Linked DNA regions of Homo sapiens: regions 1, 2, 3, 4 and 6 are each reported to be linked to region 5. The links are microRNA targets in miRTarBase. Many come from high-throughput screens and were not tested one by one. Region 5 holds a microRNA gene; each other region holds the end of a gene's coding sequence. Distances are from middle to middle.

Region 1 (4,089 bases), not on the chromosome of region 5:
TTTTCTCCAGTCAGATATTGGTCAAAGTTTTCAGCCAACTTTTATCCACAGCCAAAGAAAATGGCCTTTCCTTTCTAATAGCCTGTAGATTTGTTTGGACCACATGTCTGTTTCTGTAGCATTTGGTGCATGTCCTCAAGCCTGGAGCTAAATGTGCCACATTCTGTGCAAGGGAAGAAGAAATGGCAGGATGGCTGGACACCTCTCCCAGCAATTCTACACCAAGACAAAATAAAACTGGAAACATTAGCTCTTTGAATGCTCCCCTCTCCTTGTTGAAAATCCCTCTTAAGGTGCTTTATCCAAAGACTTTTATGGAAATAAATTTTGTGTTGGAAACTCACTATCTGCTGTAGAGGAAACATCGTGTAAAGCAGGCCATCAACTATGTTTTAGTATTGACATTTCAAAAAGGCCTCATAGCTCCCATGCCACCATCCCACGCCCATCCAGTCCACAGTCTCCATTCAGCCACCAAAGGGATTTTCCTAAAATGCAATTCTGATCATGACTCTATCCTGATTTAAAGGCTCCAGTGGCTCCAAACCCCTTCCATGACAAGTCTAGCTCCTCCACACTTCCTACCAGTTTCCTTAGGATTCAGCCCTGCCTACCTATGAAGGGACCCCTCAACCCCTGAGCTTCCACATCATGCTCTGGCAATGCCACGTTGCTCAGCGGAACCCATCATGGCATTTCATGCGTCCACACCTTTGCACATTCTTCCCTCATTGTGGCATGCCCTGCCAATCCTTTCATTCTACTGGAAATTTACTCTTTGTTTTAAAACCTTAGCAGCCATTGCTTCTCTCAGGGTTTCTCTGGTCCCCAAGATAGTTAATTGATGCTTTCTTATGCCACCTTGGTACCCTTGCCTGTTTTGCAATTTGTCTATACACCTCCTATGCTCATGAACTTCTTGAGGGCAGGAACTATGCCTATCCTCATGCCTGGCCCTTGACCCAAGCTCAATGCATGTTTTTGGAATGCATGAGGAATGAACCAACTGACAGGTTCATCTATCAATAGAAAGTGGGCCCATGGCATAAATTCCCAGAATAATGCTGCAGCAAGACTCCACCCAATGAGGCCTAAGTGAGGCCTCATTGTCAAGGGAATAGAGTGTGTTGAATGCAGAGGCAATCAACATCACCCCCGAAGTAGAACAACTCGCACACAAAAGGCTGCATCAGAGGTCGTGTTCACCATTCTCACAACATCGTTTGCCACTTATTATTCTAGTCATAATGATGGCTCTCTTTCAACGTCAGCATAATGCCTGGTGCTCAGTGGATCCTTAACAAATACCATGTAAGGATAAATGAATAAGTGTGAAATCTACTTTTTAAAAGAAGGCATCAAGGGATTGGCTTTTAAAGGCATTTCCCATATGACAGATTTTTCTGAGGCATGAGTGGGTTGTCCCTCCTAAAATTTGACCCAATCAGGAAGTAGAACAGAGATGGAGCCTGGGGTAGCAGTTAGGAATCTGCACTAGAGAGACACAGTGTCAGGTTTACCTTGGTCCTAGGTCAGTTTCCTTCCTTCTCAAGAAATAGCCAACTATGGATGGTATTTCCCGCCCCAACCAGAAGGCTCTTGCCTCTCCTTTGTCAGAGGCACACAGTAGCATCACCACAGTCCACATTGACCAGGAACTTCACGTGCAGTGATGAGGATGAGCACAGGGTGTTCCCTACCTTTGCTTCACGTGCTAACATTATGCAATGGAGAACAGTCATAGAGACAAATCCTGGATGAAAACCACCACCCCTGGGGATTAAAGTTGTCTGTTCACCATAGCTGTTAAGAGCAAGGGCTCTGGACTCAGACTGACCTGGATTCAAATCCAGGATCCAGATCTTTCTAGCCAAGTCAGCTGGGACAAGTCAATTATCATTTTAGGGGGTCAATTTCCTCACCCACAAAATGGGAATGATCTTACCCCCCTCAAAGGATTACTGTGAGGGTTAAAGAATGTAATGTATGTGAAGCCTGCACAGTGTCTATAGATAGCAAGTGCTCAAAAGTGGAAAACTATGATTAAGAACTTTCAAAAATATTTTCACGATAGTCAGATCAAAAGGAAAAATATTCTTTCAAGACACGGTGCTTTCAAGAGAATGGATTGTCTAATTTTTAGGAGCCAACAAATGCTCATTAATCAATGCCCCACGGAAGAACATGAGAAGACAGTGTTGGCATTTAAAACAATAACTGTGGCCATTACCAGGCCCCAGGATGGACAGATAGGGACAAGGACAGGGATACCCAGCATTTCTCTGAGAGCTGGTGCAAGAGGATTAATCCTGAAGGGCTCATTTCTGATTCTCCTCTGCTGGACAAAGAATGACTGAGTTGGAACCTCAGAGGGTGCAAGTCAAGGTGCCAAGAGTAAGATGCCAGTTTCGGTCTGTAAGCAAGTGTTTCTGGGGGTGAGGGAAGGTCAGGGGAAACCTGACCACTGGACAGGAGTGAGGCAGGTACAGTGCATTGCTCCAGGTGTCATGCAAAGCTAGAAAGTCAGCATTTCCTCTGTTGTTTTGATCCTCCTTATACAACCCAAAGCCAACAGAGGATTTCAACTTCCCCAAATTTCTGCCCTGAGCATTAAACAACTTTTTCCTATGCTAAATTTGGTTTTAGTTTTGAAGTGCCTGAGATGCACAATTCAAAGGGGTCAAGTTCCTGGCCTCTTATGTTGATGAAACCATCCCCAATCCTCAGCTTACATGGCTTGCCCCTATGCCTACCACCTCTTATAGCTCTTCCATCCATCATTCAAGAGGTTCCATGAAGAAAGCTCAGGGTTAATGTTTGGGGTAGTACAAGCTAAGCCATCAGCCCTTGGGAACAAAGATTACTTTCTGTTGGAGGGGTCAATTTGGCTAGTCACTTTGAGCAGCAGGGCAGGGACCCAAAGTGGAAAAGAGAAGAGATTTTTAAATGTAGAGATAGCTCCATCCACAGGAGATTGGATTCCTGGGAAGAAATGGACCTTACTCAGGGGAAGCCTTGACCTCTGATTTAGTCTGAGCCTGTGAGAGCTCACGGCCCATTTCTGGCCTTCTTGCCCTAGGCTCAGATTGGTGGACAGCATCCAAACAAAGGCAGCCCACAACTAGGCAGTGTTGTGTAGTAGAAGGAGCACTGGACTGGAAGTCAGGAGACCTGAATTCGAGTGCAGGCTCTGCCGCTAACTAGCTGTGTGACCTTGGGCAAGTCACCTGATTTCTCTTGGGCAACTGTAAAACGAAGGGTTGGTCGGGTGATCTCTAAGTTCCCCTTCCGAATGTGGTCCAGGGTCCTACTCTATCCCTCCTTAGCCCTGTGCTTGCAGGGACAGAGATGGGAGAAGGGAAGGGGAGGAGAGAGAGGAGGCAGGAGGGAGCCCAAGGGTGTCATGAATCAGGACTCCACTTTCTCCTTCTTTTTGCTCTTTTTCAGGAAGGAGGGGGTTCGGAATTTCTTTTTCTTCTTTGAGGGAGACTTGGAAGGTGAGCCCTCTGGGGACATGGGGCCGCTGGTGACCGACTCGGTTTTGTCCTTAGAGGTATCAACATCCGTGTCAGCACTGGTGGTCATCTGGCTCAGGCCTTTGCTGAGGATTTCCTCTGCCGTCTGCTCCTCCTCCCTCCCGTTGACCACCACCCCTTCCGGCTGGGTTGTTTCGGGCTCTGTGGTGGCGGCTTTGCTTGTTTCTGTCTTCTTAGTACCTTCTAGAAAAAGATCAAAAGATATGACCTGTAAGATTTCATTCAGGTGACAGCTTCCACCTGGGGCTAACAGAACCATTTCTAGGGAATTCTATAAAATCAATCCAGAGCGAGGGGAGGGCCAGCCTGATGTTGAGGGATGGCTACCAGAGACAGATGGAAGGACTGGGTTCTGATCTGCACCTTCCATGTGGCCTGTCCTGGGAACACCCCCTTGCAGGCTGGCAGCTCTGGGCTCTTGTCTATGAATTTAGATGGATATTAATGTCTGAAGTGGCAGGAGGCCCGGCTGGGGTCCAGCTCAGAGTTTTTCTAGGCAAGAAAGAAGAAACAGACACAGAGAAAGGAGAAGGCGTGAGGTGTACAGCTTGGT
Region 2 (4,088 bases), not on the chromosome of region 5:
GTGGGCAACAAGGCTAGACCCCATCTCTACAAAATATATATTTAAAATTAGTTGGGTGTTACCCAGGCATGGTGGCTCACACCTATAATCCCAGTACTTTGGGTAGCCGGGGGAGGTGGATCACTTGAGGTCAGGAGTTTGAGATCAGCCTGGCCAACAAGGTGAAACCTTGTCTCTACGAAAAATACAAAAATCAGCCAGGCATTATGGTGGGTACCTGTAATCTCAGCTACTTTGGAGGCTGAAGCACGAGAATTGCTTGATCTTGGGAGGCAGAGGTTGCAGTGAGCCAAGATTGTGCCACTGTACTCCGGCCTGGGCAACAGAGTGAGACTTCAACTCAAAAAAACAAAAATAAATAAAAATGAAAAATAAAAAAATATATATATAAAATTAGGTACGTGTGGTGGTGCATGCCTGTGGTTCCACCTAATCAAGAGGCAGTGGCAGGAGGATTGCTTGAGCCCAGGAGTTTACGGCTGCAGTGAGCTATGATCACGCTACTACACTCCAGCCTGGGCAACAGAGCAAGAGGTTGTCTTTTTTTTTTTTTTCTTTCTGAGACAGGATCTCACTCTGTTGCCCAGGTTGGAAAGCAGTGGCATGATCTCAGCTCACTGCTGCCTCAGTCTCCCAGGCTCAAGTGATCCTCCCACCTCAGTCTCCCAAGTAGCTGGAACTACAGGTGCACACCATCACATCCAGTTATTTTTTTTTTTTTGACGGAGTCTCGCACTGTTGCCCAGGCTGGAGCGCAATGGCACGATCTCAGCTCACTGCAACCTCCACCTCCCAGGTTCAAGCAATTCTCCTGCCTCAGACTCCTGAGTAGCTGGGATTACAGGCACTCACCGCCATGCCCAGCTAATTTTTTGTATTTTTAGTAGAGACGGGGTTTCACTATGTTGGTCAGGCTGGTCTCGAACTCCTGACCTTGTGATCCGCCCACCTTGGCCTCCCAAAGTGCTGGGATTACAGGCATGAGCCACTGCACCTGGCCTAATTTTTGTATTTTTTTTTTTAGCAGAGATAGGATTTTGCCATGTTGCCCAGGCTGGTCTCAAACTCCTGAGCCCAAGTGATCCACCTGCCTTGGCCTCCCGAAGTGCTGGGATTACAGGCATGAGCCACCATGCCCCACCAAGACAAACAAAACAAAACAAAACAAAACAAAACAAAACAAAAACAGTATAGATGAAAGGCAGCCAGCCTGGGTTCAAATCCTACCGTTGCTACTTATTATTAAATAAACGTAAGAATCTTATGGACGTTACTTTACCTCTCTAGCACCTTGACTTTCAAATCTGCAAAACAGGATAATAACACCTATTTCTTTATAACATTGTTATAAGGATTAAGTAGGTTAATATATGTGAAATACTTAGAGTAATGTCTGGTACACAGTAGGCACTAAATAAGTGTTAGCAGCCAGGTGCGGTGGCTCACAAGGTCAGGAGTTTGTGACCACACTGGCCAACATAGTGAAACCCTGTCTCTACTAAAAATATAAAAATTAGCTGGGCATGGTGGCGTGTGCCTGTAGTCCCAGCTACTCGGGAGGCTGAGGCAGGAGAATCACTTAAACCCGGAAGGCGGCGGTTGTGGTGAGCTGAGATCGCACCACTGCACTCCAGCCCAAGCAACAGAGCGAGACTCCGTCTCAAAAAAAAAAAAAAAAAAAAAAGTATAGCTACTATTATAATCCTGTGAAAATAATCAATATAAAATTAAAAATCAACAGACAGCCCATATTGCCCTTTTTTGGCCTAACAAAAAACAGATTTCTAAGAAGACAGTAAGAAATCAGTATTAATTTAAACATTGTACAGGACAGGAGATCAAAAGCACAGGTATACAAATGGTTCATTTAAAAAAACTGATACTCAAATTGACACCCTGAAAATGTCAGATAATTTTTCAGAATGATTAAACTCACTAAACATCTGTAAACAATAAATTTATTTCATTTCTTTTAAAGATTTAATGATATACAAAACGTATATAGTATCTTTAAGTAATACACTTTTTCTTTCTCCCCACCCCCAATCAATATTAAACACTATTTAAACAGCTTATCATCTCTTGCCTTGTCTGTATCTATGAGATACACTACTAAATACAAATAAGCTTTATACTGCTCCCTTCCAAATAAAAATTAAAATTAGTACCAAGGAAACAAAAGAAAAAGAAAAAAAAAGAAAAAAAATTAAAGCATAAAACTTAGATGAAAAGCTTTTCTTGTTATTGTTGAATATTCAACAATATCTGGGGCTGTTAAATTACATTTTATTGGCATAAGGTTGCACTGCAATCTGCCAGTATCACATAATGATAATCCAACTGAATTAATTTCTTAAGTACCACAAACAGCATTCATGTTCAAATGTTCCAACACAATTTTAAATATATGCAAGAGTTCATGTTTACATTCTGATTTGATATAACAATCAATAAAATCTTTGGAGAAGTTTGTAAGTTCTGGGTTGTTGCTATAGATACAGATAGGGAAAAAAGTACTTTAACTTTCCTCAAAAGGTAACTTCCCTTGACGAGTGAGTTAGGTTTCTGCTTTTATAATTTAGGTTATGTATCAGTTTACCATGGCTTTCTTCTACTTAACAGTGACTTGATAAAACAATGTTTAAAAAACCCAATTAACATTTTTACACAATTTGGGTTCTATTTAAAAAAAAAAACTGGCTCTATCTTTAAATATGGAGCCTAACCCTGATTCATAAATACCGTCCCTCTTGAAAATGGTCTTCAGTTCAGGCTTCTCATACCTCTGTGAACCTAGAATTAGAACAAGTCATTTCCCTTCCCGTGGCCAACAAGCATCTAGTTGGGAACCAGTGATATCATCACTGAACACACTAAATACACTGAGGAAAATTTTGACTGCCATTTAACCAAAAGGCTGCGTGATTTCTTCATTTCCCTAGTTGAATGGCAATAAAACAGCTGCCAATAAAATCTGCATGGACACCTACCTTTGGTTAATGGTATTGTACCACATAAGAGAGAGCATCACCCTCATCAAAACAAAGTCAAATGAGATCCTCTGCTATACAAAGAGCCCTTTAAAAAGTTATAAATACTAATTATCAATTACCTTTAAAATTTCTCAGCTGCCAGCTCTATCCTATAGGGACTTTCTGACTGATTAATCAGGTCAAAAGAATATTGACCTTTTAACTGTGCTGGAGTCAGCAAATTCAACTTGCATACACCTTTCTATATTACCAAACAATTTCCTCCCGAGGGAAAAGTGACACAGTAACATTTCTGTGAGGTGCAGGCAAAACCAATGATTCAGTAATATTAATATTATAACATCAGACGAACAGAATTAGTTGATTCTGATTCTTTGGTGGAATTTCCAGGCTGAAGATTCAAATCTGAAGGCTCATCCTGAGGAAATATAATTTTATCAGGCGTATAATCATTCCTCTTCAGATCTACATTGAACACCCACAACAATTAAAAAAAAAAAAGAAAGAGAAAAGAAAAAAGTTAGTATTTCTTAGAAATGGAGAATTAGGAACCTTTTATTTTCTTTTCAAGACGGAGTTTCGCTCTTGTTGCCCAAGCTGGAGTGCAATGGCGCGATCTCGGTTCACTGCAACCTCCACCTCCCGGGTTCAAGCGATTCTCCTACCTCAGCCTCCCAAATAGCTGGGATTACAGGCATGCACCACCATGCCCGGCTAATTTTTTGTATTTTTAGTAGAGACAGGGTTTCACCATGTTGGTCAGGCTGGTCTTGAACTCCCGTCCTCAGGTGATCCACCTGCCTCGGCCTCCCAAAGTGCTGGGATTATAGGTGTGAGCCACCATGCCCGGCTGAATTAGGATCATTTCTAATCAATTTTTCTCCAAACATGTCAGACTTGTTTTCCATCAGGTTGTTATAAATTCAGTAGTCACCAAATTTATACACATAAAAATGAAGTCATTCATTCATTCAACAAATAATTACATATTGACCATGAGTCAGAAACTCATGTAGGCGTGGGAATGTAGCAGTGAACAAACCAGACAAGCTCACTGGTCTCAGTGAGCTTATATTCTAGTGGGTGACAAAAAAT
Region 3 (4,089 bases), not on the chromosome of region 5:
ACACCGGATTCTCCTACGGTAGGTTTTTTTCCCCAAAAGCAGTGAGGTCCATGTTCTCTCAGCCTCGAGAGCTATTGACCTGAAATATCCACAAAAGGGAGCCCACTCTTGAAGCAAGCGTGCAGATGATATGCAAATGGGTGAAGCTGCTGTGGGGTAGAGGGGGTGGGGTGGGGAGCCAGGAACCAATTATCAGAGACAGGCAGGCCTTTTTTTTTTTTTTTGAGACGGAGTCTTGCTCTCGCCCAGGCTGGAGTGCAGTGGCGCTCTCTCAGCTCACTGCAAGCTCCGCCTCCTGGGTTCACGCCATTGTCCTGCCTCAGCCTCCTGAGTAGCTGGGACTACAGGGCGCCCACCACCACGGCTAATTTTTTGAATTTTAGTAGAGACGGGGTTTCACCGTGTTAGCCAGGATGGTCTGGATCTCCTGACCTCGTGATCCACCCGCCTTGGCCTCCCAAAGTGCTGGGATTACCGGCGTGAGCCACCGTGCCCGGCCTAGAGACAGGCAGGCCTTAATGAAACTTTCATCTTTATGTTTTAAAGGAAATCTTTAAAAGTTTAAAGAACTTTAGGTTAAAAATTGGGAGATTGCCACTCACTTTTGGGACTATTATTATGGTAAAGTCACAGTTACCTAATTAAGCTTTTGTATTTTCAGATCAAGCCAAGTCCAGCTGCTTCCAAAGAGTACTTTCAGAAGGTAAATCAGTAGATCACCCATGTGTATCTGCACCTTCTCAACTGAGAGAAGAACCACAGTTGAAACCTGCTTTTATCATTTTCAAGATGGTTATTTGTAGAAGGCAAGGAACCAATTATGCTTGTATTCATAAGTATTACTCTAAATGTTTTGTTTTTGTAATTCTGGCTAAGACCTTTTAAACATGGTTAGTTGCTAGTACAAGGAATCCTTTATTGGTAACATCTTGGTGGCTGGCTAGCTAGTTTCTACAGAACATAATTTGCCTCTATAGAAGGCTATTCTTAGATCATGTCTCAATGGAAACACTCTTCTTTCTTAGCCTTACTTGAATCTTGCCTATAATAAAGTAGAGCAACACACATTGAAAGCTTCTGATCAACGGTCCTGAAATTTTCATCTTGAATGTCTTTGTATTAAACTGAATTTTCTTTTAAGCTAACAAAGATCATAATTTTCAATGATTAGCCGTGTAACTCCTGCAATGAATGTTTATGTGATTGAAGCAAATGTGAATCGTATTATTTTAAAAAGTGGCAGAGTGACTTAACTGATCATGCATGATCCCTCATCCCTGAAATTGAGTTTATGTAGTCATTTTACTTATTTTATTCATTAGCTAACTTTGTCTATGTATATTTCTAGATATTGATTAGTGTAATCGATTATAAAGGATATTTATCAAATCCAGGGATTGCATTTTGAAATTATAATTATTTTCTTTGCTGAAGTATTCATTGTAAAACATACAAAATAAACATATTTTAAAACATTTGCATTTTACCACCAGTAACTGTTGGATCAGCTTATTTTGGGCTCTCCTTTCCTTCTCAGATTATCAACAAACATTTATTGAGCATTTACCTCAGGGGCCACAAAGAGAATAAGATGCTGGTTCCGCACTCAAGGAACTCGGTTTAGGGGCAAGACAGATAGGGAAACATTTTCTCGTTGTTTCAGTAAATCCTTGAGTGCCTACCCCGCACCAGGTGCTGTTTTCCAGGCACAAGAGCGAACAACGGACAAACCCCTGCTTTTAAGCTCTTACATTCTAGAGGGGAAACACCTCATACATGTAGTAAAAGTAGAGTGTTTGGAAGGAAAATAATGTGGAGTGAAACTGCTGAAGCGGAGTTGTAGGTGTTCTAGATGGGGTTGTCAAGGAAGGCCTTAAGGGAGAGCCTCTCTGGATCAATTTTCTCATTGTAAAATGAGGACAATAATTGTACTTATCTCAGGGTTTTGATGAGCATCGAGGGAGAGAAAACGCGTAGAAAGTGAGAGTATTACGGGGATAAGAGACTTCTAGGCAGAGGGCAGGGAAAACACAAAGGCCGTGAGGCAAGAGTGGGCTCAGAGCGGATGCAGATTTACTAGGAGGCCGGTGACTATGGCTGTGGTGGGGGTCCCAGAGTGCCTTTTGGCCAGGCCAAGGACTTTAGGTTCTGTTCTGGGGTGGGGAATGTCAGGAAGGATTTGAAAAGAAGAGTGACATCAACTTGTTCTAAGAGAATCACTCTGGCTCCTTTGTTAAGACGACATAGCAGTCCAAAGTGGGGAAGCAGGCCAGCGGGCTGGCTTTGTGACATCCTGGAGGGTAGAGACAACAGAATAGAACAGCACGCTACATACTGCACTGGTGCTTAGATGGATTTCTGCGGCATAAGGGTAGAAGTGGAGGGGGCACCTTACTCAACTCGGAGGGTCAGGGAAGGCTTCCTGGAAGAGGAGATAAACCCCTGGAGGTTAAGAAAAGTGAGCTAGGCAAACTGAGCAAATACAGAAGCAGAGTCATACAGGCCTGAAGGACGCCATGAGCCAATTTCCTGTTCCTGGAGGCGCAGGGCAAGGGAAGGAATTGGCCCGCTGGAGGTTAATGGCCAATACTGAGCACTTCTGAGGGCTCAGTGCTGTGTTAGGGATGTTTTATCTCCTTTGATCAGAAACAAAACCCTGAGATAGGTACAATTGTTATCCTCATTTTGCGGATGGGAAAATAGACTTCGAGATACTGACTTGGCGAGGGTCACACAACTAGATGATGTGCTGGGTCCCCCAGTCCTGGACTCCGGAGGCCCCCTGAACGACCTAGGCACACTTGTGGCTTCCGTGAATTTAAGTGCACACAGCCCCCGCCTGGCCCTGTGCTGGGGAAGGGCAGGTGGGAGGAGGAAGGGAAGGCAGGTTTTTCTTTACAAATGGTACCTATTTGGTAGTCAACAAAAGGAACTGGATTTGCCCCAACACTGGAAGAAAAAAAAAAACAACCTGTTGGGCTGAGGGATAGTGCACTGTGCCCAGGGCCCTATACTTGGTTTGATGCTCTGGTGTTACTCTCTTGAAATTCTCAGTAACATGAATAAGGGGCACCGCATTTGACATTTTCCCTGGGCTGAGACCATGATGCAGCCGGCCTGACTGCGCAACACCATGCACACTGGAATTCGTGGGCCATCGGAGGGATTTTCGAGGGTAATGACCAGGGGTAGGGCGCGGCAGAAGCGCAGGGTGAGGTTGCGGACGGCCTCACTCACAACCTTTCCGGGTCTTCGCATTAGGTACTGTGATGACGGGTTCCGATAGTGACCCCTTGGGGCCTGGAGACGGCCCGGCTCCCCAAAGGTGCGGAGCAGGGCAAGCAGGGTTGGGAGGACGTGGCCCGTGGGAGAGCTGCGCTCGCCGGAACAGTGGGCGCGCAAGGGCCCCGAGGCGCTGTGACACGGGACGTCGGGCGCGCGGGCCTGGGGCGGGAACTGCGGGTGCGCGCGGCCCGGGGCGGGGCTCGCCGCCCGGCTCCTCCTCCACGCGCGGCCTGGCGGCGGCGGCCACTCTAACCAGCGCAAAATGTCCCTGGAACAGGAGGAGGAAACGCAACCTGGGCGGCTCCTAGGACGCAGAGACGCCGTCCCCGCCTTCATTGAGCCCAACGTGCGCTTCTGGATCACCGAGCGCCAAGTACGGCCCGGGCCCGGCGCGACTAGGGGCAGGGAGGGGGCGGGCCGGGCCGCGTGGAGTCGGGCTGACCCGGGTGACCTTGGCCAGGCCACGTGGGCGCCCCCTGTCTCCGTTTCCTCCTCTCGGAGTTGTGCCGGGAACGCGCACCACCGGCCTTCACCCCTTAGGGCGCGGCAGGGGACGCAGGGGAAATCGAAGCTGCCAGATGCCCACGACCACAACGTCACCCTCCAGATTGCCCTCTCGGAGGGGCCCAGTCCGCGCAGGTGGCTGCTCCCTACTGCCTGAGCTGTGGCTGAGCAGCAGATTGGGGAGAAACAGGCTCTCGCACCTTGGTAAGCTCAGCCACTTTCGGTGAGACCCCCGAGGCTTTGGGAAGCCACCCTTGGGCAGGACATAAGCAGGACTTATCTCCCTGCAGCGTCTAGGGC
Region 4 (4,077 bases), 220 Mb from region 5:
GTGTGGCCCAGGGAAACCAAAAGATTGGACACACCTGCTCTAGCCAACGTTCATTCCAGCCCTCCTGTGTCAATCTGCTCTTCAACTCAGCCTTTCAACACACTCAGGTCCTGCTTATCTGGGCAGTTTGTGGCAGGAGCTGTGGAGGCTAGGGCATACCCCCTTCCACCCTCTCCAAAGCATTACTTTTACTATTAATATAATAACTTTGGAGGTGGCAAAGAGAAATTTATGTTAGAGCAAAACTACAAAAACTCTCATAGATCTGATACTGATGACTTGTACACTTCAGATCATTATCAGTGATGTAGAATACAACGTATTCTCAGCTAGCACGTTCTGCTACCAATTAGCTGCTTTTTACAGTGCTAACGTACACATTCTGTCACCTTAACACAGCTGGTTTCTCTAACAAGCCTTCATGTTTCGCACGTCAGCACCACCACCACTGGGCTCCTCTCACGAACCTGTTGTAACGGGCCTCCCAGGTGACTGCTATCTCCTGACGCTGGGCCCACCACCACCTGGAAGCCCTCAGGCGCTGACACTACCACAGGGATTTTCTTCACCTGGAATCTGAAGCAAATGTGCATTCTTCTGGCAGGGAAGCCTGCGGCCCTAGACATCCTCAAAGACGTTAACAACAAAAAACCCACAGCTTTAGACTCAATAAATTCAGCAGAGTTCACTTCTCCAAACATACGCCAAGCCAAAGTTTTCTCCAAGCCCTTTAATATTCACTTAAACAGTTGAGGCACAAGCAATAATAAAACTGCATTTTTTACGTTACAAAAAGATTTTGTATGTTATCTGCATGATATACCAATTTTCTCAATCTCTTCTGCAATAACATCTCATTAACACTCTGGTCCACATGTTGATTTAATAAAGTCAGAATGGCAGGTGGGAGGATGGTAAAATAAACTTACCAAGGGGCAAAAGGAACCAAACATTTACTGAGTGCCGACTATGCAAGCTCTACTAGGTTTTACACACTTTACATAAACGTGAACCTAAGTTCTAGTTATCAGTTAACAGGCCAGCATTGCTACAGCCAGTAAGTCTATGTTTTCAATGTTCTTTCGCTTTTAAGTACAAATTGTGGAACAAAACTATATCTTTGCCCAAAGAAGCACATCAACTGTTGCACTAATACATTATTTTCCATTTCCAAAGTTTTTTAGTAAGTGTGCAACATTAGCACATGGAAACGCTCAAGCTGTGTATTAGTTCACTGAGATCTGGGGTTTTTTTGTTCTCACCTGCTGAGCACCATTTGGCCAGCATCACTACAACAAGCTGATTACATCACCTTGTAAAACTTAAGATGGGGATGAATAGTGTTTGGCAATTACATTTCTGGGAGAAAAAACTGCTGATTTTTTCTTTAACTCGACACAGCTAGCTTTAAAAAGTGGTACCTCATTTTAAAGCACCAAAGTTGTCATTTAAATAAGAAAACGTACTTGGGTTAATGAACTGTAAAATGAAGATACCAACGCCTTTTCAAGCATTACAGCAAAGCCAGTATGTTCAGAGCCAAGTGACACCCAGCTCATACTGCACTCCAGTTCCCAAGGAAACGGCGTTTCTACCCTCCCCAAACTTAAGCTGCCCCTCACTCCTCCAGCCAGCCCTCCTTTTTCTGAGCCCATTCTTTCCTTGCTGAGCTATCTGCCCCTTGCTCCCTTTCCCACCCCTGTTCTCCCTCTAACTGCCCCTCTATACATGTCTGGGCTGCTGCCTAAGACTTCTTAGCTGCCTGGTTAGTCACTGACCAATCACCACTACACTGCTTTGGATTTGGGATCCCACTAGTAAAACTAACTGGCATGTCTGTACTGGTCATCCCCCCAAAAAAGCCCTCCTGTGTAACAAAAAAGCACTGTTTAAGGGTTCAGGATCACAAACCCTCAAGATACCCGAGAAAAGTCCTCAAATGTGAGTCGCCTAGTCTAACAGTAGAGGTAAGTTCAAAGATGAAATGTGATTTGTTCAAGGCTGTGCGGCTAATCAGAGGCAGAAACTAGACCTATTTCTCCTTCCACTGCACCACAAAAAAACCGAGATTGATAATGATTAAGAAGAGTTTGTAAGTCAATCAAAATAAAATGCCTAGTACATAGGAAAAGTCTTTGGGATTTCTCCAGACTTTTAGACAGAACAAAGGCAATCTTTACAATGAGAAATGCTCCTCAGTTCAACAGATGCCACCAAGTACCAAGGATCCTTACTCAGTTCTGAAACTGTGACTACGGAGAATATGTCACTATTTGAGAATAAGAGGTCCCACCTGCTCCACTCTTTTCAAGTTTTCAGTCACAAGGTTGCAACTTACTCTCATCGTTTCACAAGATAATCAAGTTGAAGCAGGATTAAGGAGGTACACTGAAGATAAAGCAAAAGGCAACAAGCATTTTTACAAGCAGATCATCCCAGTTACCTTAAAAGTTTCGGATTAATTTACAGAGTAGTGACAGAACCATATAATTTCAGTGAAAATCAAGATAGTTATACCATTAAAAAAAACATCAATTCAGAAATACTAAGTCAGGCAAGCATGCAAAATTCAGAATATAAAAAAATGCAGGGCCTGGTTGCCCACATACATTCCTCAGGTTAAGGTGGATTTAAAGATGCCCAACAGAACCCAATGAATCAGAAGCTAAAAGGGACACTTCAGTGATCAGCAGACGCATTCTCTCACGTAACAAATGGAGGGAAAGTGAGCACACATTAACTAGCGAAGCTCACAAGGCTAGATTAGGGGTGTACAGAAATCTAATTCCTGGTGCTATTTGCAACTACATATATTTAAAATACAAGGAGATAAATACCCAGAACACATTAAGCCTACTGATTTAAACAGAACATTTCAAGACTGCTACACAGAAAGGGAAGGAAGCTGTTAACCCAGCACAGCAGCACACCTCACATATTTACGTCTCAGAGATTAAATGGAAAGAAAGGATCAATCAAAACCTTTAATGCTCAGTTTTCACAAACACAGTCAAGTCTATCAAATTTCCAGATTTACAGCAAAATGTGCCCTCTAAAAAAGTGTACATTCTTCAGTTTCTCCTATACTTTTTTTTTTTTGCCTATCTTTCAAAACTGAGCACTGGGTATTTTTAACATAAGCCATGTCATATGTACAGTTTAACTATGTAACTATGTTTCAGGAATAAACAAAATCCATGATATTTTAGTAACTCATAGTGTATTTATAGAATGAAAAGTTCTCTATCAAAATACACTTTTCACTGGGAAAAATAAATAAAATAGACAAATGGATCTACACAAAGTAAACATTAACTTTGGTAGATTTCAGTGTAGTTCATAACAAGCATATTTGCCCTTATTCCCCCAGAGCTGCTCAACTACCAAGAATTTTTAAAATATTTTTAACTGAGATTTTATTATGTTGACATTTGTTTCTCATTCCACATCATCTTCAGCCAAGCTCTGAGCACTTACAATTCTCTGAAAGAAAAAAAAAATAATTTTTTAAAGTGTCATAAGCATTTAATTAGGATTCTAACTTCAAAATAAAATGCTCTTTGTATTCAAAGAATTGAATCTTAGTAAAGTTCACCCATTCTGACATTTAATTCAAAATGTAACACTTTACACACAGTCGGCATCCAAGAAAACAATGATCATACTACTGACAATCCCATTTCAAAAGTCAAGTTAACAAAGGAGGCAGATCATTACATTATATATGTTTTTAATTCAGATGGGGTCTCTGTAACCCAGGCTGGAGTGCAGTAGCACAATCTCAGCTCACTGCAACCTCTGACTCCTGGGCTCAAGCGATCCTCCCCCACCTCAGCCTCCTGAGTAGCTGGAACCACAGACTCATGCCACCATGCCCGGCTAATTTTTTTTTTATTTTTGGTGCAGACAGGGTTTTACCATGTTGCCCAGGCTGGCCTTGAACTCCTGAGCTCAAATGAGTGCTAGGATTATAGGGCATGAGACACTGTGTACAGCCATCATTACATAATATTACATCAGTCAATTATGTAACTAAAACCAAAAAGATTTTAAGATCTCTTTTCACTCCCAGGCAAA
Region 5 (4,089 bases):
CCTCATAGGATTGTCCTGCGTGTTAAATGGTCTCATACATGGAAAGCACTTTGGAGTGCCCAGCACCTGAAATGCTCAGTAAGTGCTGCTGTGGTTATGATGATCCCCCTCTCCCACCAATGGGCTTCCTGGAGTGATCATCTTCGATCAGGAATATCAAGACAGCAGGGCCCAGCAGTGAAGGATGGTGGCAGGAGGGGAGGTATGGAACTCAGATGTCCTCGGTCTCTTCTGTTTATTCCAATTAAGTACCCCAGATGCCAAACCTCTTCTGTTATTATTGTTGGTTTGTTTGTTTGTTTGTTTTGGAGACAGAGTCTCACTCTGTTGTCCAGGCTGGAGTACAGTGTCATGATCTCAGCTCACTACAGCCTCAACCTCCTGGGCTCAGTCATCCTCCCACCTCAGCCTCCCAAGTAGCTGGAACTACAGGCGCACATCACCATACCCAGCTAATTTTTGTATTTTTTTTTTTTCGTAGAGACGGGGTTTCACCATGTTGGCCAGGATGATCTCAACCTCCTGGGCTGAAGTGATCCTCCTGCCTCAGCCTCCCAAAGTGCTGGGATTATAGGCGTGAGCCACTGCGTCCGACCTTCTGTTAGGGTTTTGACCCTGCTCACCTCAGGGGATGGAAAAGACTTCTCCCTTTCTTGCAGCCTCCTTAATCCCCAAACCTTCCCTTTCCTGGCAGAGGTCATGGCATGGAGTGAAGAGTCCCTGGGCTGAGCTGCTGTGCCAGTGGACAGCTGAGTGACCTTGGGCAAGTCACTGCCCACCTTGGGGCGGCGGCTTTCCTCAGGTGGAAATGAGGTTCTAGCTGTATGGTGAGGAGGATGAACGTGTCCCATCAGCCCCACCTGACCATGGGCCTCTGAGATGTTCCAGGTGCTTCAGCCATACTGTAAGTCTCCTGAGTAAGGAACAGCTGGGGTCAAATCCTGCTCTGTCACTCATGAGCTGTGACCCTGAGCCAGGAGTGAGTAACTCTGAACCTCATCCGTAAACAGATCATTCTACGGTCGAGTGTCCCTCATCTGAAATGCTTCAGAACAGAGTGTTTCGTTTTTTGGGTTTTTGTTTTTTTGAGACGGAGTCTCGCTCTACCTCCCAGGCTGGAGTATAGTGGCCAGATCTTGGCTCACTGCAACCTTCACCTCCTGGGCTCAAGCCATCCTCCTACCTCAGCCTCCTAAGTAGCTGAGACTACAGGCACACGCCACCACGTCCAGCTAATTTTTGTACTTTTAGTAGAGATGGGGTTTTGCCATGTTGGCCAGGCTGGTCTAGAACTCCTGACCTCAAGTGATCCGCCCTCTTCCGCCTCCCAAAGCGCTGGGATTATAGGCATGAGCCACTGCGCCTGGCCGGAAGTGTTTTGTATATTGGACTTGCTTGGATTTTGGAGAATTTGCCGAACAAGTTGAGCATCCCTACTCCCAAGTTCCAAAGTCCAAAATGCTCCAATGAGCATTTCCTTTGAGCGTCACGTTGACACTCAAAAAGTTTCAGATTTTGGAACATTTCGGATTTTGGATTTTTGGATCAGGGATGCTCAACTTGTCATGCGTTCCTCATACGCTTATGTGGTGGATTCAGTGAGATGATCCTGTCTCACTTAGGTTAATGCTTGGCATGTGGTGGCAAGTGCTTGACAAATGTTGCCTGATGTTTGCTGGGCAGTGGCTGAAGCAGCTCATCCCTGGCATTGGGTCTTTCTTTCTTTTTTTTTTTTTTGAGACATCGTCTCACTCTGTTGCCCAGGCTGGAGTGCAGTGGCACGATTTTGGCTCACTCCAACCTCTTCTTCCCGGGTACAAGCAATTCCTCTTCCTCAGCCTCCCAAGTAGATGGGATTACAGGCATGTGCCACCATGTCCAGCTAATTTTTGTATTTTTAGTAGAGACGGGGTTTCACCATGTTGGCCAGGCTGGTCTCAAACTCCTGACCTCAAGTGATCCACCCTCCTCAGCCTCCCAAAGTGTTGGGATTACAGGTGTGAGCCACTTTGCCTGGCTGGGCCTTTCTTTCCCTCCAGGCCCCGCCCTGGGCCCTGCACTTTCTCTGCTCACCTAGTGTTGCCTTTATGTCGGTGATAGGGAGGATTAGCCTTATCAGGCTCCAGATAATGGCTGGAAAAGTCAGGAGGCTGCATGAAGCAAAGATAATTTCCTTTCTATTTCTCCTCTCCTTGTCCTTGGCCACCCCTCACCTTAGCCACTGGGGAACCCAAGGGGCCAGTGTCCAGCCCCAGGTGATAGCAGAAGAGCACTGGCCTTGGAGTCCAGTCCTGGGGGCCTGGTGTCAGCTCTGACACTCATGCATTGATTGTATTTCTCAGGTGCTTACTGTGGCCAGTCAGTGTGTTAGGCTTGGGGTGCCTGGTGGTGAATGGGATGGGTACGGGCTGGCTGTGTGGAGCCTGTGGCCTGGCGGGCACACAGATGGTCAGTCAGAGCTCTATAATAGGGTTTTCACTAGTGCTTCCAGAAAAGTCTAGAGCTATGAGAGGAATCCGATAGGAGCCCCATTCCGGCTATGTGAGGTTGGACCAGTGGAGGACATCTCAAGCAGAGAGGACCCCAGAAGAGACCGGGGTGACCGGATTGCACCAAATGGGGCAGGGTGATGGGGAATACATTTGGAGGCCTTGGTAAGGATTCTGATGTCTTTATTTTAGAAGAAATGAGAAGCCACTGAGTAGTTTCTCACTGAGCTCCCCACTGTGCCATCTCTCTGATGATCAGATTTTCATGTTAACTTTGGTTGCGGTGTGGACCTGAGTGACTTGGAGACTGGAGCAGGGCTGGCATGGCGTGAGTCCAGGTTGAAGTGACTAGTACCTCGGACGAGGTGTCTTGGGCAAGGTGGAGTCTGGGCCCTCTGTGTCTTTTCAGTTTTTCCCTCTATAGATTTCTGAAGCTGCATTGGCTGGCCCACAGCTCCTTGCAACCCTGACATCTCCTGGTGCAGAAGGTGAAATGGTGCCTGGCCTTTGTAGATCAGATCCCAGTACTTGCAACCCTGACATCTGGTGCAGGAGGTGAAATGGTGCATGTCCTTTGTAGATCATATCTCAGTACTTGTAGCCCTGACATCTCCTGCCACAGGAGGTGAAATGGTGCATGGCCTTCATGGATCGGATCCCAGTACTTGCAGCCCTGACATGTCCCGCTGCAGGAGGTGAAACGGTACATGGCCTTCGTGGATCAGATCCCAGCATTTGTAGCCCTGACAACTTCCAGTGCAGGAGGTGAAACGGTGCATGGCCTTCGTAGATTAGATCCCACTTGTAGAGGGTGAGGGGGACCAACTTGAGGTCTCAGGCTCAGGGCATGAGCAGAAAGGGCACTGCAGATTTTCAGGGAAACCTGAGTCAGATTCAGACTCTGTCTTGTGCCGCCTTCCCTAAGTGGGAGGACTGAGGGCTGCTCTGAGAAAGGTTGGGTTGGATCCATATCTGCCTCCCAGAGCCAGGCACTTCCTGGGTGCTTGGAAAACGCATGCTGAATAATTGAGTGAGCTGTTATTGACCTGATCCAATTTATCTCTGCATCGTTGCCATGTGGAATAAATGTGTACTGACTGCATAAATGCGTGAATGGATGAGGAATGCTGTCCTGCCAAGAAGGTCCTCATGGATCCTCAGAGAGGCCCCAAGTCCTGTGACTGATTCATCTCTGCCTTCACCCGAGCAGCCAGTGGATGGATACTCCTGTTAGCCCAAAATTGTTCATGAACCAAAAAAAAAAAAAAAAAAAAAGAAAGAAAGAAAGAAAAAAGAAAGCACTGATGGGTGGGAGTCCTTAGGTTATTTTTAGCTGCAGTCGACTCAGGCTGAACTTTGAACTAGTGTCTGTTCTCCAGGCCACACTCAGACTGATGGACGGACAGCTGGGCCAGTGCTTGGAGACTTCCAGGCACAGGGAAAGCCGTGGGGGCATGTGATCCTGAGGTCACAGTGGGCATCTGGGCCTCTGCCCTGTGGAAGGAGGAGGGAGGCCTGCAGGATCTCTGACTCTGACATTTCCTGGGAGGGAACGGAGAAAGGAGAACTGGCCGCTACTACATTTATTTATATATTTTGA
Region 6 (4,086 bases), not on the chromosome of region 5:
ATGACACAGTGAATCAGAGTAATATTGAATTAAAAAATGTTAATCGAAACAATGCAGTAAATCAGGAGAACAGCCGTTCAAGTAGCACTGAAGCCACAAACAATAACCCTGCAAATGGGACGCAGAATAAGCCACGACAACCAAGAGGTGCAGCAGATGCCTGCACCACAGAAAAAAGCAATAAATCCTCTCTTCACCCAAACCGTCATGGCCATTCGTCTTCTGACCCAGTGTATCCTTGTGGAATTTGTACAAACGAGGTGAACGATGATCAGGATGCCATCTTATGTGAGGCCTCTTGTCAGAAATGGTTTCATCGGATCTGTACTGGAATGACTGAAACAGCTTATGGCCTCTTAACTGCAGAAGCATCTGCAGTATGGGGCTGTGATACCTGTATGGCTGACAAAGATGTCCAGTTAATGCGTACTAGAGAAACTTTTGGTCCATCTGCAGTGGGCAGTGATGCTTAATCAAAGGCATTAACTAAAGTGGGTTTATTTTCCTGTGCATTGCAGAAGTTCATTGACACAGGATTTTAATGTTTTACATTATTTTTTTAAATGCATACACAAAAACATTATTTACTTAGTTTTTATTAATCACTTCATCACTAGAGCAAATTTTTTATTGTCTTTGCTTGCTGTCTTAAATGAGAATAATGTATATGGGGGTGCTTTAGAAACATAAATAAATGTTAGTTGTTGTTATTTATCACAAACATAAAAGCCTCTTGAAACTTCAAAATAATATATAACAAATGTAGGCAAGTTTTAACTTTTAAAAGTTAGAATCATTGAAAAACGTGTATTTCAGTGCTGAACTTTGGTTGTACCATATTAAAGATTTAGTTCAAAAAGTTTATCAAGGATCCACTTAACACGTCTTCACAACATAATATATGTAACTGTAACATGGGGGAAAGCATACATTTTTATGGATTAAAAAAATAATAGTATGACACCAGATTCCTCCTCCACTAGGGTCTTTGGAATCAATGAATTTCATATTTCAAGTGAGTTTTCAGGATATCTGTTTGTACAGATACGAGACAGATCTTAGCATATAGTAAATTCTCAGTAAGTATTGTTGATTAACTTGTGGATGGTACCACATGAAATTGCTAATATTAGATCAGTTGAAAATTGACTGCAATTAGTAAAGTTGGTATAACGTACGTTCCCAGTTGTGCTATTTAGAATTATGATAGTATTATGCTCCTACTTTTCTTTGATATTGAGTTGTCTTGTTATTGTTTATTGTTTTCCAGAGAAATACTATAGTATCCACAGAAGAATTGTGAATACTTTTTTATAATTTTGAACTGGGACATATTGCAGATGAGGAAGGTAGAAACATCCATTTGGCCTTAGAGGGCTCTGCTAGTAAAAGAACTACTCAGTGGTGGTTTGAAAAATCTTGTTCTGGGGATCTGAATTTCAAAAATGAACCCTAGGGGAGATCAAAATCCATTTTAAACAAAGATCAATTAAGAGCCAAAGTGAAATCTAACTTGCAAACAACAATTTGAAGCCTTGCAGCAGACTTAAGGAATTCCCGCTCTGACTGGGGAAAAGTATAAAAATGGACCTGAGAGTACCCTCTTGAGGGATGATCAAGAATGGAGACAGTTGGAGTTGTGCTCATTAAGATTCAAAACAGCAGAAATCCATTTTTGGAGCAGATTATAACCTGTGGCCAAAAAAAAAAAATGTGTGCTGTTTGACAGCTAATGGCAATTTATACAATCATTGGAGGCTGGTAAAGCTCCCTAATATGTTGCCACCATTATCATTGCAACCAAAAAAATTCTGAAGATTGTGTGGTGATCTACGAAAGAGATAAATAATTACTGTTATTTAAACCCAAGTGAAACAATGACGGCAGCAGCATATTATCAAGAAATTTAAATTATGCATGAAAATGTGATTTAAAAACAATGTCCTTTGGGTAACACACAAGAACCTACACTTTCACAGACAAGGACTCGACCTCACATGTCACAAGCTACTAAAGCAAAGTTAAGTGACTTGGGCTATGAAATTTTGTCATGTCCATTTTAGTCACTGGACCTTTATTCCATGGACTACTGTCTATCATTTGGAGCTTTTTCTAAGAAACAATGCATTCCCCAATCGAGATGAAGTAACTGGAAGATGTTAACAATTTATACAGCCTAACAAATGATGAATTTTATAAAAGTTAGACCTTTAATATTCTGTTGGAAGAAAACTATTCATGCTCCTGATGCATATTTTGATTGAATAAAACTTATTTTTTTAAATACATTGTTTTAATTTTGACCTACAAAAACAGCAATTTCATATGGTACAAGGTAATACAAGGTTTTCTCCATTTACCCTTGACTAGTTAGAGGTGAGTACAAAATATTTTCAGTAGTTGTAAAATATTTATCTTTACAATTTTAGGAAACAAAATGATATAAACTATACTTCTAGGTACTCCTTTGTGTGAAAACTTTACCAGTTGAAGCAGGTTAAAATGCAGTATTTTGGGCTGACAGGCATTTGATGGTGTTCAGTAGTGTACTTGAAGATCTCATTTTACTTGGATTTTTTATTATACATATTTCTCTAAATGTTTAAGGACCTAGTTATGTTGCTCCTGAAAGTTTAATGAGTGCTGATTTTTAATAAATGATGCACTGTATGCTGTATGCCTAGTTGTAGCATCAGATCATGATTTATTATTACCCTGAATAGAGCTAGATGATAGATATTTTGAGTAGAACTTTCCAGTGTTCTCAGGAGTTAACACTTTACATGGTAGTACTTGAGTTGTGATCATTACTAAAATCAATTATGCAGTTTCTTAAACCCTTTATCTCTTTAAGTTTCAGTAGTTAGCTGTTTTTGTGAAAATGAAATAACTTCTCCCAAGCTAGTCTAAAGGTATGTGTTATGCAATATAATTCATTTTCTATTTCCACATAGTTGTTTTTAAAAACCTACAAACAGGTGAATTTTTATTCAGGTGTTTAGGTCTTCAAAGCACCTTACTTAAATAAGAATCTGTAAATATTCAAAAGAAAAACTCACGGTTCATTCTGATAGTGAATCATAGCCAAACTGTAATCATAGCTGATGAATAGCGTTCATGTGTTTGAATTAATTTTCCTGCTAGTTCTACATTTGTCTCTACATAATGCTAAGTCAAAAGTTATATAGATGCTTTTGGATGGAATAAGTGATGAACTGTAAGAATAGCCAGATGATAATTTGTCTGAAGAAGGCTATTATACAAACTGAAATGGCTTCTTAGGATAAATGATAAGCTGCCTTCAACTTTAAAAATATGCAGTGATGGAAAAAAACACAGGTGGAATTGTACCTTTTTTGGTATAATCCCTTTCCTTCACTGAAAGTCCTCATCTTACACACACACACACACACACACACCCCCCACAGTTTCTCCAACATCCTTGAGTTTTGCTTAAATTCAACCTGGCTAACTATGAGCATCTAGGTTTACTCACCAAAGCTAGGTTATTGACAGAAAGGTGGGTTTTTTTTTGTTTTTTTTGTTTTGTTTTGTTTTGTTTTTGTTTTTTGCCAGTCTTGCTCTGTTGCCCAGGCTGGAGTGCAGTGATGAGATCTCGGCTCACTGCAACGTCTGCCTTCCTGGTTCAAGTGATTCTCCTGCCTCAGCCTCCTGAGTAGCTGGGATTACAGTCGCCCACCATCACACCTGGCTAATTTTTGTATTTTTAGTAGAGACGGGTTCACCATGTTGGCCAGGCTGGTGTCAAACTCCTGACCTCAAGTGATCTGCCCGCCTCAGCCTCCCAAAGTGCTGGGATTACAGGTGTAAGCCACCACGCCTGGCCAGACAGAAAATTTTAAAAAGCATCAGTTCCTTTCTCAGAACTTGACTTGCTCATGCACTAGAGAATTTGTGGTCCACATGCTTCTAGGTGTTACTCGATTCACTAATACTGAAACAGCTCAGCTTGTGAAAGATAAATTGTTCTTCAGACAGAGTGCTTAGAATTAGATTTGTGATCAGTGTTTTCCTTTTGTGTGAAATACTTTAGAGTACTGCTATAATTGTTATTCAAATTAGAAG

What was found. The annotated mature microRNA hsa-miR-1290 reads UGGAUUUUUGGAUCAGGGA and lies in region 5 at 1,534-1,552, shown strand. An mRNA with a match to its seed (bases 2 to 7 or 8) in the 3' UTR can be bound and repressed. Matches are read on the target gene's strand: a 7mer-m8 pairs with bases 2 to 8, a 7mer-A1 pairs with bases 2 to 7 and ends in A, and an 8mer does both.
Region 1: the mRNA of ADD2 is a reported target of hsa-miR-1290. Seed matches in the 3' UTR shown: 7mer-m8 at 481-487.
Region 2: the mRNA of TRPM7 is a reported target of hsa-miR-1290. Seed matches in the 3' UTR shown: 7mer-m8 at 1,033-1,039.
Region 3: miRTarBase lists PRDX3 as a target of hsa-miR-1290. Seed matches in the 3' UTR shown: 7mer-A1 at 1,387-1,393.
Region 4: miRTarBase lists TOMM20 as a target of hsa-miR-1290. Seed matches in the 3' UTR shown: 7mer-A1 at 2,626-2,632 and 7mer-A1 at 1,799-1,805.
Region 6: the mRNA of PYGO1 is a reported target of hsa-miR-1290. Seed matches in the 3' UTR shown: 8mer at 1,465-1,472 and 7mer-A1 at 1,666-1,672.

Annotation. Positions count from the first base shown.
Region 1 is chr2:70,660,017-70,664,105 of GRCh38, forward strand. It overlaps ADD2 (adducin 2), which reads right to left. Exons shown (of 16, transcript NM_001617.4): 16 at 1-3,719. The coding sequence ends at 3,409. Among named protein-coding and RNA genes, the nearest start is that of ADD2, 110 kb to the right of the region's middle.
Region 2 is chr15:50,558,351-50,562,438 of GRCh38, forward strand. TRPM7 (transient receptor potential cation channel subfamily M member 7) reads right to left here. Exons shown (of 39, transcript NM_017672.6): 39 at 1-3,458. The coding sequence ends at 3,328. Among named protein-coding and RNA genes, the nearest start is that of USP50, 14 kb to the left of the region's middle.
Region 3 is chr10:119,165,106-119,169,194 of GRCh38, reverse strand. It overlaps PRDX3 (peroxiredoxin 3), which reads left to right. Exons shown (of 7, transcript NM_006793.5): 6 at 1-18; 7 at 662-1,475. The coding sequence ends at 715. SFXN4 (sideroflexin 4) reads left to right here and starts at 3,481. Exons shown (of 14, transcript NM_213649.2): 1 at 3,481-3,658. The coding sequence starts at 3,548. RefSeq lists silencers at 3,333-3,802, 3,844-4,030.
Region 4 is chr1:235,108,626-235,112,702 of GRCh38, forward strand. It overlaps TOMM20 (translocase of outer mitochondrial membrane 20), which reads right to left. Exons shown (of 5, transcript NM_014765.3): 5 at 716-3,483. The coding sequence ends at 3,439. Among named protein-coding and RNA genes, the nearest start is that of SNORA14B, 17 kb to the right of the region's middle.
Region 5 is chr1:18,894,541-18,898,629 of GRCh38, reverse strand. MIR1290 (microRNA 1290) reads left to right here and starts at 1,482; the gene lies at 1,482-1,559. The region is part of intron 1 of ALDH4A1 (aldehyde dehydrogenase 4 family member A1); the gene reads left to right.
Region 6 is chr15:55,542,410-55,546,495 of GRCh38, reverse strand. It overlaps PYGO1 (pygopus family PHD finger 1), which reads left to right. Exons shown (of 3, transcript NM_001367806.1): 3 at 1-4,086. The coding sequence ends at 473. Among named protein-coding and RNA genes, the nearest start is that of DNAAF4, 36 kb to the right of the region's middle.